Linked DNA regions of Homo sapiens. The protein of the gene in region 1 interacts with the protein of each later gene in a pairwise test. Each region holds a gene or a part of one and is shown in the gene's direction. Other genes may lie near its edges.

Region 1 (3,649 bases):
ACATCTGGGTTTTAATAGCGCCTCCTTGCCCTGCCTGTCTCCGGCATCTCTCTTTTTTCCCTCTTCTCCATCTCTAGAGAAGCCACCAGAAAATGGCATCTTGCTTTTGACTTTCTTTGTGCTGATTCTTTTAGAGAACTTAGTGATCCACTTTGCAATGTCTCGTCTCCTAACATTTCAGCTTGTTTCTCAGAGGGCCTGTACTTTGCTTTCTACCAGCTCTTTCATCATTTTCATTTTCTTTAATGAAAAATAAGCAAAACTGTATGATTTCTAGGTTGTCTTCTTCTCCTAAAGGATATTCTTCTTCCGGCCTCTCTTAATCTCTCTTCTCAGCAACTCCCTTGATCTCTTTTATCATCAATTTATTGTCAATAAAAGTGGCTTTAGGAAGCCTCCTGTTACCTGGCAGGGTTCCAGCTTTCTGACACTTTCCTATGGGACCCACTTGTTATGTCATCCCTGTGTCCTTCTGGCACTCCCTCTTAGCTGGGGAGGGTCAGTCCCCAGGGTGAGAGTCGGTTGGGATGGCCCATTATCAGGCCTTTAGGAGTTTATAGTCTTGTACTTCCCCTTCGAAGACTGAGCTTTAGAGACATTTGGATCTAAAGGCAGCCATTTGATGCTGACTCTTTGGGTTTGCAAAGTAGTCATTTGAGGTTTTTAAAATGTAATTTCCTCTGTGCTCTTTGCAATCGTTCACTTTTCAGTAATTCAATAATATTTACAGAGGACCTACTTTGTGCCATACCTGGTCGCTGTTATCCTGGAGCTTATAGTCTAATGGCAAAGAAAGATGAGTTAATCAAGTAATCACACCAAAACACTTTCAATTCAGCCATGAAACTGTACAATTTCAGCCATGAAACAATGTAAAGGAGAGGCACATGGGGCTATGAAATCATACAATGCAAAGGACTGGTGTACTCTCAGGTAAGTGGTTCTCAAAGTGTGGTCCCTGGACCGGCATCTCAACATCTCCTGTGAACTTGTTAGAAACACAGATTCTCCATCCCTTAACTCCAGGGTTTGGGGGGAAGGTGTCCAGCATTTGTGTTTTAACCTGTCCCCAAGAGACTGTGATGCATGCTCAAGTCTGAGAACCTCTGCTCCAGGTGATCAAAGAAGGCTTCTCTGAAGACATTAAATTTTGGTTGATGAAGGAAACTAGGGAATAGGGTGGGGTAGAAGTATTTCAGACAGAAAGAATGGCATGTGTAAAAGCCCTGTGGTCTCACTCCTGTAAATCCCAGCACTTTGGGAGGCCGAGGCGGGTGGATCGTGAGATCAAGAGATTGACACCATCCTGGCCAACATAGTGAAACCCCGTCTCTATTAAAAATACAAAAAAAATTAGCTGGGCATGGTGGTGCGCTCCTGTAGTCCCAGCTACTCAGGAGGCTAAGGCTGGAGAATCGCTTGAACCCGGAAGACAGAGGTTGCAGTAAGCCGAGATCGTGCCACTGCTCTCTAGGCTGGTGACAGAGTGAGACTCTGTCTCAAAAAAAAAAAAAAAAAGCCCTGTGGTGAGAGCAGGAGAGCAGGGAGCTTTTGAAAACATGAGGGAGTACCCCAAGCAAGGAGAAGAGTGATACAAGGTGAGTCTGACAGGTCTGGACAGGGACCATGATGTGCAGGTCATGAAGGCCTCATCAGGGATTGGGCAACGGGAAGCTTTTGATGTGCAGTAAACACGGGAGTGACAATATATTATTTGCTTTTATTGAAAGGATAATTCTAGCTACAGTATGGAGAAAGGATGGAAGAAGAGCAAGAGTCGAGCACTGGGAGGGCCTCACTGGGGTCTTGGGGAGGATGATGGTAACTTGGACTAGGGTGGCTTCTGAGGAATGGAAAGAAGGGTGCATAATCACAAGATTCCCAGGTAAAATCCACAGGTCTTGGTTATCAATTGGAGGTGTCAGGAAGGACTGTGGTGTTTTGAGTCTACATCCAAGATGGAAGATAATGATGCCAGTTTTAGCAGTGGGACGAGATCATGAGAAGGTCCTGTTGAGTCCGAGGTACCTCTGAGCCACCCAGCTGTAGATATCAACTAGATAGTGGAAGGTGTGCTGGAGCTCAGAGAAGTCAGGGCTGGAGATACACATTTGTGCATCATCAACAGCTAGGTGGCAATTCAAACTGTGGGCTGGGAGGCATTGCCTAAGAAGAAAGAACGTAAGGAGAAGAAAGCCAGTGACGTTCATTGCAGAATGTCAGCGCTTATGTTTAATGGTCAAGTGGATTGTTTCCTCTAAAACAAGTTTAGAGGAAAGATCCAAGAGAAGGAGGAAAATTAGAACCTAGAAGACCATGGTTTCACAGAGGCCAAGGGAAGAGAGTTTCAAGCAGGAAGTGCCCAGCGGGGGTGAGCAGGGGGTAAGGCAAAAGAAGGTGGAAGAATGCCTGTTACACTAAGCGACTCAAAAGTCATTTGTGACTTTAGCAAAAGATATTCAATGGAGGGAAGAGAGCAGAAGATAAAATGAGGTGGACTGACATGAGAATAGCAGGTAAGAGAGTGCAGAAAGTGAGCATAGACAGCTCTTTAGAAATGGTTGTGAAGAGGAAGAGAGGGCCCTGTGGATGGAGATGTGGAGTCAGGCAGATAGCTCTGGTGTATTTGATTTTTCAGTGGGAGTGCTCCTAGCATGTTAAAGCCTAAAGACTTTGTTGAAAGGGGTGCTGAAAAAAGAGAAATGGTATCATCTAAGGTTACCAAGGGCCAGGATCCTTGACACAGGTAGGAGGATGCAGAGGCTTCGTGGGTCTGGTAGCTCCTGCTCTCCCCTGGACTTTTCTGAACCTCTGGGACCTGCCCACGCCCTGATCGCCTGCCCTGGAACGCCTGCTGTCCCTCCCTTTCTTGGCATCTCTCCTCCCCGCTGTCTCGCCTGCCCACAGTTCCTCTCCTGCAGCCTGTTCTGCTGTTTTCTCAGCTTTGTTCACCCACTGTTAAGTTATTAACTTGTCAGGGTCTAGACTCCCCGCTTCCTTTCCCTCTTTTGAACTCACTGCTGGCTCCCTTCCCATTTGCCGCCTCAGAAAGTCAGCATTTGGAAGGCTGAGGTTACTCTGCAGGTCAGTATTGGCAGGTACACAGAATTACAGTTAATATAATTAGAATGTGTAAGTTTTCTTAAAGACAATGATACAACTGAAAAAGAAATAATAAACACAGTCATCTCTCTGTTATCTTGTGGAGGTAAATGGTGAACTTAAAAAAATAGACTTTATTCAAAGTAGTGTCTCCAAGAAGGTTCATCTGTGAACATGTTAAGGATCGCTGGACTCTTATATGTTAATTCATGGATTCAATTATGATCAGGAATGATCCTCAGTTTTTAAAGCAAACTCAAAGAACTAGGTAAGTTGTTTTAATATCAGTGTCGCTGTTCTGAGACGTGCAAACTTTATCTTAGATTCTTTCTATTATTTTTATTTATTTATTTTTTTTGAGACGGAGTCTTGCTCTGTCACCCAGGCTGGAGTGCAGTGGCGCAATCTCGGCTCACTGCAACCTCCACCTCCCAGGTTCAAGCGATTCTCCTGCCTCAGCCTCCCAAGTAGCTGGCACTACCACACCCAGCTAATTTTTGTATTTTTAGTGGAGACGGGATTTCACCATGTTGGCCAGGATGGTCTC
Region 2 (3,649 bases), on another chromosome or scaffold:
TCCCAAAGTGCTGGGGTTACAGGCGTGAGCCACCGTGCCTGGCCTCTATACACATATTTTCTGATTAGGTGCAAAGCAGTGTGTTATAGGCGTGTCAAGAGCCTCAAGTGGCCAAGTGCAGTGGCTCACGCCTGTCATCCTAGCACTTTAGGTGTCTGAAGTGGGAGGGCCCTTGAGCCAAGGAGTTTGAGACCAGCCTGGGCCACATAAGGAGACCTCACCTCTATTACATTTTTTTTTCTTCTGAGACGGAGTTTCACTCTTGTTGTCCAGGCTGGAGTGCAGTGGCGTAATCTCGGCTCACTGCAACCTCCACCTCCCGGGTTCAAGTGATTCTCCTGCCTCAGCCTTCCGAGTAGCTGGGATTACAGGCATGCGCCACCACGCCCGGCTAGTTTTGTATTTTTAGTAGAGATGGGGTTTCGTCATGATGGCCAGGCTGGTCTTGAACTCCTGACCTCAGGTGATCTGCCGGCTTTGGCCTCCCAAAGTGCTGGGATTACAGGCGTGAGCCACTGCACCCGGCTAAAAATAAATTTTTTTCAATAAAAAATAAATAAATAAATTAAATAAATAAATAAATAGCGAGCCTTAAGGGGAGACAGACGTGTAACTGAACTGCACAGTGGGAACAGGCCACTTCCTGGGGATGTCATGACGCTGACTTTTTTCAGATCCACATTGACATGAGTCTGCCCAAATATTACTAGTCCTATTTTAATTCATATATATATGTATATATATATATTTTTTTTTTAGATAGAGCTTCACTCTTGTTTCCTGGGCTGGAGTGCAATGGCACGATCTCTGCTCACTGCAACTTCTGCCTCCTGGGCTCAAGCGATTCTGCTGCCTCAGCCACCCGAGTAGCTGGGATTACAGGTGCCTGCCACCACGTCCAGCAATTTTTTTGTATTTTTTAATAGAGACACGGTTTCACCATGTTGACCAGGCTTATCTCAAACTCCTGACATCAGGCGATCCACCTGCCTTGGCCTCCCAAAGTGCTGGGATTACAGGTGTAAGTCACCGTGCCCGGCCTTAATTCATATTTTTCTAAAAAACAAGAAGTTCACATATCAATGAAAATATAAAAGAGAGGAACATAAGGAGTGGAAGAGGCATTTTATAATTTATCTAGATATGACATTTTAATTGTAATTAGCTTTATTGATATATAGTTAAAATTCAATAAAATTCACCTATTTTAAGTGCAAAGTTTAATGAGTTTTGTCAATATGTACAGTTATGTATTCACCACCAGAATCTAGACACAGAATGCTTCCACCCCTTCAGAAAGCTTCCCATGCCCCATACTAATCCTCTTTCCCATTCTCAGCCCATGGCAACCGCTCATCTGCTCTCCGTTAAAAGTTTTGCCTTTTCTAGAATTTCGTATATATAGAAACATGTGAGTAGTCTTTTGTTTCTGGCTTCTTCCACTTAACACAATGCTTTTGAGATTCATCCATGTTATATGTAGCAGAAATTTACGCATTTTATTACCTAATAGAACTCATTTGTATGGATAACACAATTTGTCTTGATTCACCTATTGATTACTGATAAGGATTTGAGTAATCACAAATTTTTTAATTGATTTTTTATTGTGGTAAAGTAACATCAGATTTGTCATTTTAACCATTTTAAAGTGTATAATTCAGTGACATTAATTACATTTGCAATGATGTGCAACCATTACCATTATCTATTTCCAAAACTTTTCTTCACCCCAAACAGAAAGTCTGTAACCCTTAAACCGTGGGCAGTGGCCCAGATCTGGTCATAGCTACTCTGGAGGCACGGGCTGGAGGATCATTTGAGTCCAGGAGTTGAAGACCAGCTGGGGTAACATAGTGAGACTGCATCTCTAAAAAAACCCCAAAACCACCGCGCGCGGTGGGAGGCCGAGGCGGGCAGATCACCTGAGGTCAGGAGTTCAAGACCAGCCTGGCCAACATAGTGAAACCCTGTCTCTACTAAAAATACAAAAATTAGCCAGGCGTGGTGGCACATGCCTGTAGTCCCAGCTACTTGGGAGGCTGAGGCAGGAGAATTGCTTGAGCCCAGGAGGCAGAGGTTGCAGTGAGCTGAGATTGCGCCACTGCACTCCAGCCTGGCTGACAGAGCAAGACTCTGTCTCAAAAAAAAAAAACAAAACAACACAAAACAAAACCTGAAAACCTCTGTAACCATTAAACAATAACTCCCCATTCTCTCCTCCCTCCCCACAGTCCCTGATAACCTCCAGTCTACTTTCTTTCTCTATAAAGTTGTTATTTTGAATATTTCATATAAGTGGAATCATACAATATTTGTCCTTTAGTGTCTGGCTTATTTCTTTTAGCATGATTTTTTTTTTTTAGATGGAGTCGCTTGCTCTTGTCGCCCAGGCTGAAGTGCAGTGGCGCGATCTCAGCTCACTGCAGCCTCTGCCTCCTGGGTTCAAGCGATTTTCCTGCCTCAACCTCCGAGTAGCTGGGATTATAGGCAAGCACCCAGCTGACATTTAAATTTTTAAGCAGTCTGATTAATCATGTTTTGTGGATTGTACTTTTTGCATTTTAGTAAGAAACCTTTATCTAACCCAAGGTCCCAGTGTTTTTCTCCTTTGTTTTATTCTAGAAATTTTATAAAGCTTTTAGACCCATGCTCCATTTCAAGTGAATTTTTGAATATGTTGTGAAGTAATAGTGAAGGCAGTTTTGTTTTGCATGTGCATTGTTCCGGCACCATTTGTGGAAGAGACTTTTTCCCGCTGAATTGTCATCTTCTTAAAAAATCATTTATTGGCCGGGCGCGGTGGCTCATGCCTGTAATCCCAGCACTTTGGGAGCCCGAGACAGGCGGATCACGAGGTCAGGAGATCAAGACCGTCCTGGCTAACACGGTGAAACCCCGTCTCTACTAAAAATACAAAAAATTACCGGGCATGGTGGCGGGCACCTGTAATCCCAGCTACTTGGGAGGCTGAGGCAGGAGAATCGCTTGAACCTGGGAGGCAGAGGTTGCAGTGAGCTGAGATCGCGCCACTGCACTCCAGCCTGAGCAACAGAGCGAGACTCCGTCTCAAGAAAAAAAAAAAATCATTTTTCCTGGACCGGGTCTGTTTCTGAGCTCCAGCCTGTTCCAGTAGTCCATATGTGTTTCCTTACGCGTGGCTTCAGTGTCTTCAATTACTGTAGCTTTGTAAGTCTTGAAATCACATGGCGTAAGTTCTCCAGCTTTGTTTGTTTTTCAGAATTGCTTTGGCTAATCTTCACAATTGCTTTGCATTTCCATATAAATTTAGATTCAGTTTGTCAATTTCTATAACAAAACTCTCCTAGGATTTTGACTGATATTGCTTTAAATCTTTGCATCAATTTAGGGAGAACATGTTAACTATTTTGAGTCTTCTGGTTCAGGAACATGGTATATGTCTCCATTTATTTAGGTCTCCATTAATTTTCTCAGCAATGCTTTGCAATTCTTACTATATAGGTCTTGCAAATATTTTGTTAAATTCATCCATATGTATTATATTTTTATGCTATTGTAAATGATATATTTTAATTTCAATCCTCAATTTGTCATTGCTTGTATATAGAAATACAATATAATTTTTGTATATTAATCTTTTATTCTATGACGTTGCTAAACTCACCTG
Region 3 (3,649 bases), on another chromosome or scaffold:
CCCTTGTTTCAGGATTCCCTGCAGAGAAGTTTGCAGATGACCACATCCTGTTGTTTATTTGGTGGAAAACTGAAATCGAAAGCTAGCTAAATGCTGAACAATGGGAACTAGTTGGCTAAAAAATGGCCGTGCAATGCAAGAGTGTGAGGTTACGAAAATGATGATGTGGGCGCGTATCCATTGACACAAACATCCATGTGTGCTACGCCCTCAGTTAAAAAGCAGGTTAGAAAATGGAATAAATGATCCTGCTTCTATAAAAGGATGCATATGTGTTTTAGGAAGAAGGTGTGTGAGGATATAGATCAAATTCTGATGGCCTGTCATTTTACCTTTTTTGCTGATCCATATTCTACTGCAGTGCGTGTGGATTATTAGCACACACACACACCCTTTTTTTTTTAATTAAAAAAAATTTTTTTTGAGACAGAGTCTCATTCTGTCACCCAGGCTGGAATGCAGTGGTGCGATCTTGGCCCACTGCAAACTCTGCCTCCTGAGCTCAAGGGATTCTAGTGCCTCAGCCTCCCAAGTAGCTGGGATTACAGGTGTGAGCCACCATGCCCGGCTAATTTTTATATTTTTAGTAGAGATAGGGTTTCACCATGTTGTGGCTGGTCTTGAACTCCTGGCCTCAGGTGATCCACTCGCCTTGGCCTCCCCAGGTGCTGGGATTATAGGTGTGAGCCATCGCACCCGGCCCACACACACACCCCCCCTTTAATGGTGGAGTTGCCAACAGTTGTCCGATGTGGCAGAGAGAACTGGGGAGCAGAGAAGGAGCCCATCACTGGGAGGGACTGAAAACCAGCTCCTGGGCACTGCAGGGCAGAGCGTGTGCCGGGTGTGAAGGGGGTCAGTGCCCCTGTGCTGGCCACTGTCCCCCTAGTTCTGATACAGTTGCTGCCAGGAGAGGCTGGACCGTGGCAAGGGGCCAGTGGGGAACCGGGGCGGGATGGGGGGCAGCAGCAGTGCTCTGGGGTCTGCTTGTGGTGGCCATGGTGGTGGCAGTTGCAGTGGCAACTGTGGGCCATGGCAGCACTTTTCCGTGGCGCACAGGCCGCTGCCGGGTGAGGGGAGAGCCCCGCTTGTTCTCCTCCTGCCGCCTCTCCTCCCATCCCCAGCTGCTGGGTGCTCTCCGGCCGGCATGAAGCTGTGCAGGCACTGGGCACTCCCTTGGGCTCTTAGCGGGGCCTTCTCATTGCTGCTTCGCTAGGAACCACCCGCTCTCCTTTCCTCCTGGAGGGCCACGTGGGGCCGAGCACCTGGGACAGCCGTGCTGAGCTCTACCCGGCCCCTTCGCAGGCCTCGTTTCTGGGGGCCTTCAGTTTTGGAAACCTCCCTGAGGGCCCCTCTAGAGTGCGGGTCCGCCCCGCCCCTGGTGTGGAGGGGAAGTGCCCTGTCCCTGTGTGCTGACAGGTCCCTGTGTGCAGCATGGTCGGGGCACTTCTACTCTGCAGGCGCGGCCGGGCGGGGAGCGGGGTGGGGGGCGGGCGGGGGCGTGGGGGGAGCGGGGCTGGCTCTCCTGGGTGTGGGGTGGGGAGGCCTCCTCATCGCCAGCATGGAGTTAAAAACCAGGATGGGGGAGGGAGACTTCCCATTTCTCCCGAGATGTACTTCATGACGCGTCTGGAGAAAAGGTGTGACCAGCCCCTTCCTTCCCGTCAAGGAGCGCGCTTGCCTGTGTAACTCACCTGTAAAGCCCACCCAGGGAAGGCCAGGGCCTCATGAAACAGAAAACAAAGCCGGGCACTGGGCCCTTGAGCTCACTAGAATTTGGGGTATCTTTCCTTGCACCCTCACCGCATATGGAACTCCTGGCGTCGTGTCCCAGGTCACGCCTGTCCCCGTGGGGAGGCTGGGCCCCTCCCCCCAGCCACTCCCGAGACTTGAGACCTCTGCCTCAGGACGATGGGTGGGAAGGGGCTTGCGGGTAGGAGAGCGAGCGCTGCTTCCAGCGGGAGCCTCGGGGGAGGGTGGCGGGGCCGCCGTGGGAGGAGCCGCGCCGCATCTCAGGCGCAGTCTCTAGGGGCTGTGCGCATCCGTGGGGGGGACATGCGCATCTCAGGGGGGCTGCTCGCATCTGGGGGTGCTGTGTGCATCTCGGGGGGGCTGTGCCCATCTAGCGGGGTGGCTGTGCGCATCTGGAGGGGGCTGTGCGCAACCCGGGGGGGGTGTTGCGCGCATCTAGCAGGGGCGGCTGTGCGCATTTCGGGGGGGGCTGTGCATATCTGGGGGGACCGTGCTTATCTCCGGGGGCGGCTGTGCGCATCTTGAGGGGTGTGTACATCTCGGGGGGCCTGTGCGCATCTTGGGGGGCTGTGTGCATCCGCGGGGGCTGTGCGCATCTCGGGGTGCTGTGCGCTGCTCCTCTGAGCTCTGCTCTTTCTTGCAGCGTTTGCCTCAGCATGGAGGGCGGGGCCGCGGCAGCCACCCCCACAGCACTGCCTTACTACGTGGCCTTCTCCCAGCTGCTGGGCCTGACCTTGGTGGCCATGACCGGCGCGTGGCTCGGGCTGTACCGAGGCGGCATTGCCTGGGAGAGCGACCTGCAGTTCAACGCGCACCCCCTCTGCATGGTCATAGGCCTGATCTTCCTGCAGGGAAATGGTGAGTCCCATGGGCCGCTCCTCTTTTCCCGGGCTTGTGGGGGTCCCTGAGAGGCAGTTTGCAGGGGTCTTGTCACCCCTGCGGTCTCTTCTGGTTGGACAAATCTAAGATTCTAGAAAAGACAGAGACAGAAGCTGGTTCAGAGCCTGGGGAGATGGAATCCAAACCCAGGCTCTGAGGTTGGTGAGTGGCAGCTCCTCTCCAGCCTGGTCCAGCATTTTCACCTCGTTTCCACACACAGCATCCAAGGCGGGCACTTCTTGCAGCAGAGGGAAAGGAATGAGGCTCCGAGCCAGGCCCTGCTGCAGGGGTGGTTTGAATTGAGGGAAAAAAAGTAATCATATGTGAGAGTTTGTATGCGTGCGTGCGTGCGCGCGCATGTGTGTTGTTGGTCTTGGACTTGGCAGAGCTAGAGCGCCTCCCCCTGGGGCAGGAGCAAGGCAGTGCTTGGCCTCCACCTGCCTCCAGGCCAGGGATCCAGGAAGCGGGATCTGCATCCGGTTGACCCGCTCTTCCTAGAGGTGGTCCTGGTGACAGCCATTCCTGAGCAGCAGAAAGCTAAGAGGCATTCCTCACGTGACCTGGCCTTGCCCACCTCTTCTGGACGCGGGAGATCAGGCTGGGATCACAAGGTTCTGCTTGGGAGCCAGGCGCCTGCTTGCTAGGAGTAGGACCATCTGCCCAGGCTTAGGTGGGGGCCTGTGTGAGGAGCCACGTGGCTAACAGGTGAACTCAGAGGCTGCTTGTTGCCTCAGTGTGACCAACAGTGGACCTCAAACACAGCCTGGAATTTGCAGGACACCTGACAAGAAGGTGGGTGGAGGGGGGCGTCTGCTGGGCCGGGCAGCTCCTTTAGGTGGGGACGAGGGCAGAGGCGCTGCCTTCACTGCCTGTCCTGGTGGTGGGGACTGTGGTGCAGCCTCCGGCCCTGCCCTCTTTGTGCACAGCTGGGGGAGGTTGGAGGGTGGGGGAGGGGTGTTAAGGTGCACACAGCCCTAGGTGCCCTCAGAGAAGGCCAGGAGCTGCCCAGGGTCCCCAG

Evidence for each region.
Region 2: the proteins of SERP2 (region 1) and TM4SF19 interact in binary tests that used the Homo sapiens proteins (3 or more experiments, as listed by UniProt).
Region 3: the proteins of SERP2 (region 1) and CYB561 interact in binary tests that used the Homo sapiens proteins (3 or more experiments, as listed by UniProt).

The regions. Positions count from the first base shown.
Region 1 is NC_000013.11:44,390,696-44,394,344, forward strand, and holds part of SERP2 (stress-associated endoplasmic reticulum protein 2), read left to right. Parts: intron 1-730; exon of another isoform or gene 731-3,492; intron 3,493-3,649. UniProt on the Homo sapiens protein: Interacts with target proteins during their translocation into the lumen of the endoplasmic reticulum. Protects unfolded target proteins against degradation during ER stress. May facilitate glycosylation of target proteins after termination of ER stress.
Region 2 is NC_000003.12:196,328,384-196,332,032, reverse strand, and holds part of TM4SF19 (transmembrane 4 L6 family member 19), read left to right. Parts: intron 1-3,649. UniProt on the Homo sapiens protein: Negatively regulates vacuolar (H+)-ATPase (V-ATPase) activity by interacting with members of V-ATPase V0 complex and hence inhibiting V1-V0 complex assembly. Required for multinucleation during osteoclast differentiation.
Region 3 is NC_000017.11:63,436,307-63,439,955, reverse strand, and holds part of CYB561 (transmembrane ascorbate-dependent reductase CYB561), read left to right. Parts: intron 1-2,395; coding exon of another isoform or gene 2,396-2,408; coding exon 2,409-2,610; intron 2,611-3,649. UniProt on the Homo sapiens protein: Transmembrane reductase that uses ascorbate as an electron donor in the cytoplasm and transfers electrons across membranes to reduce monodehydro-L-ascorbate radical in the lumen of secretory vesicles.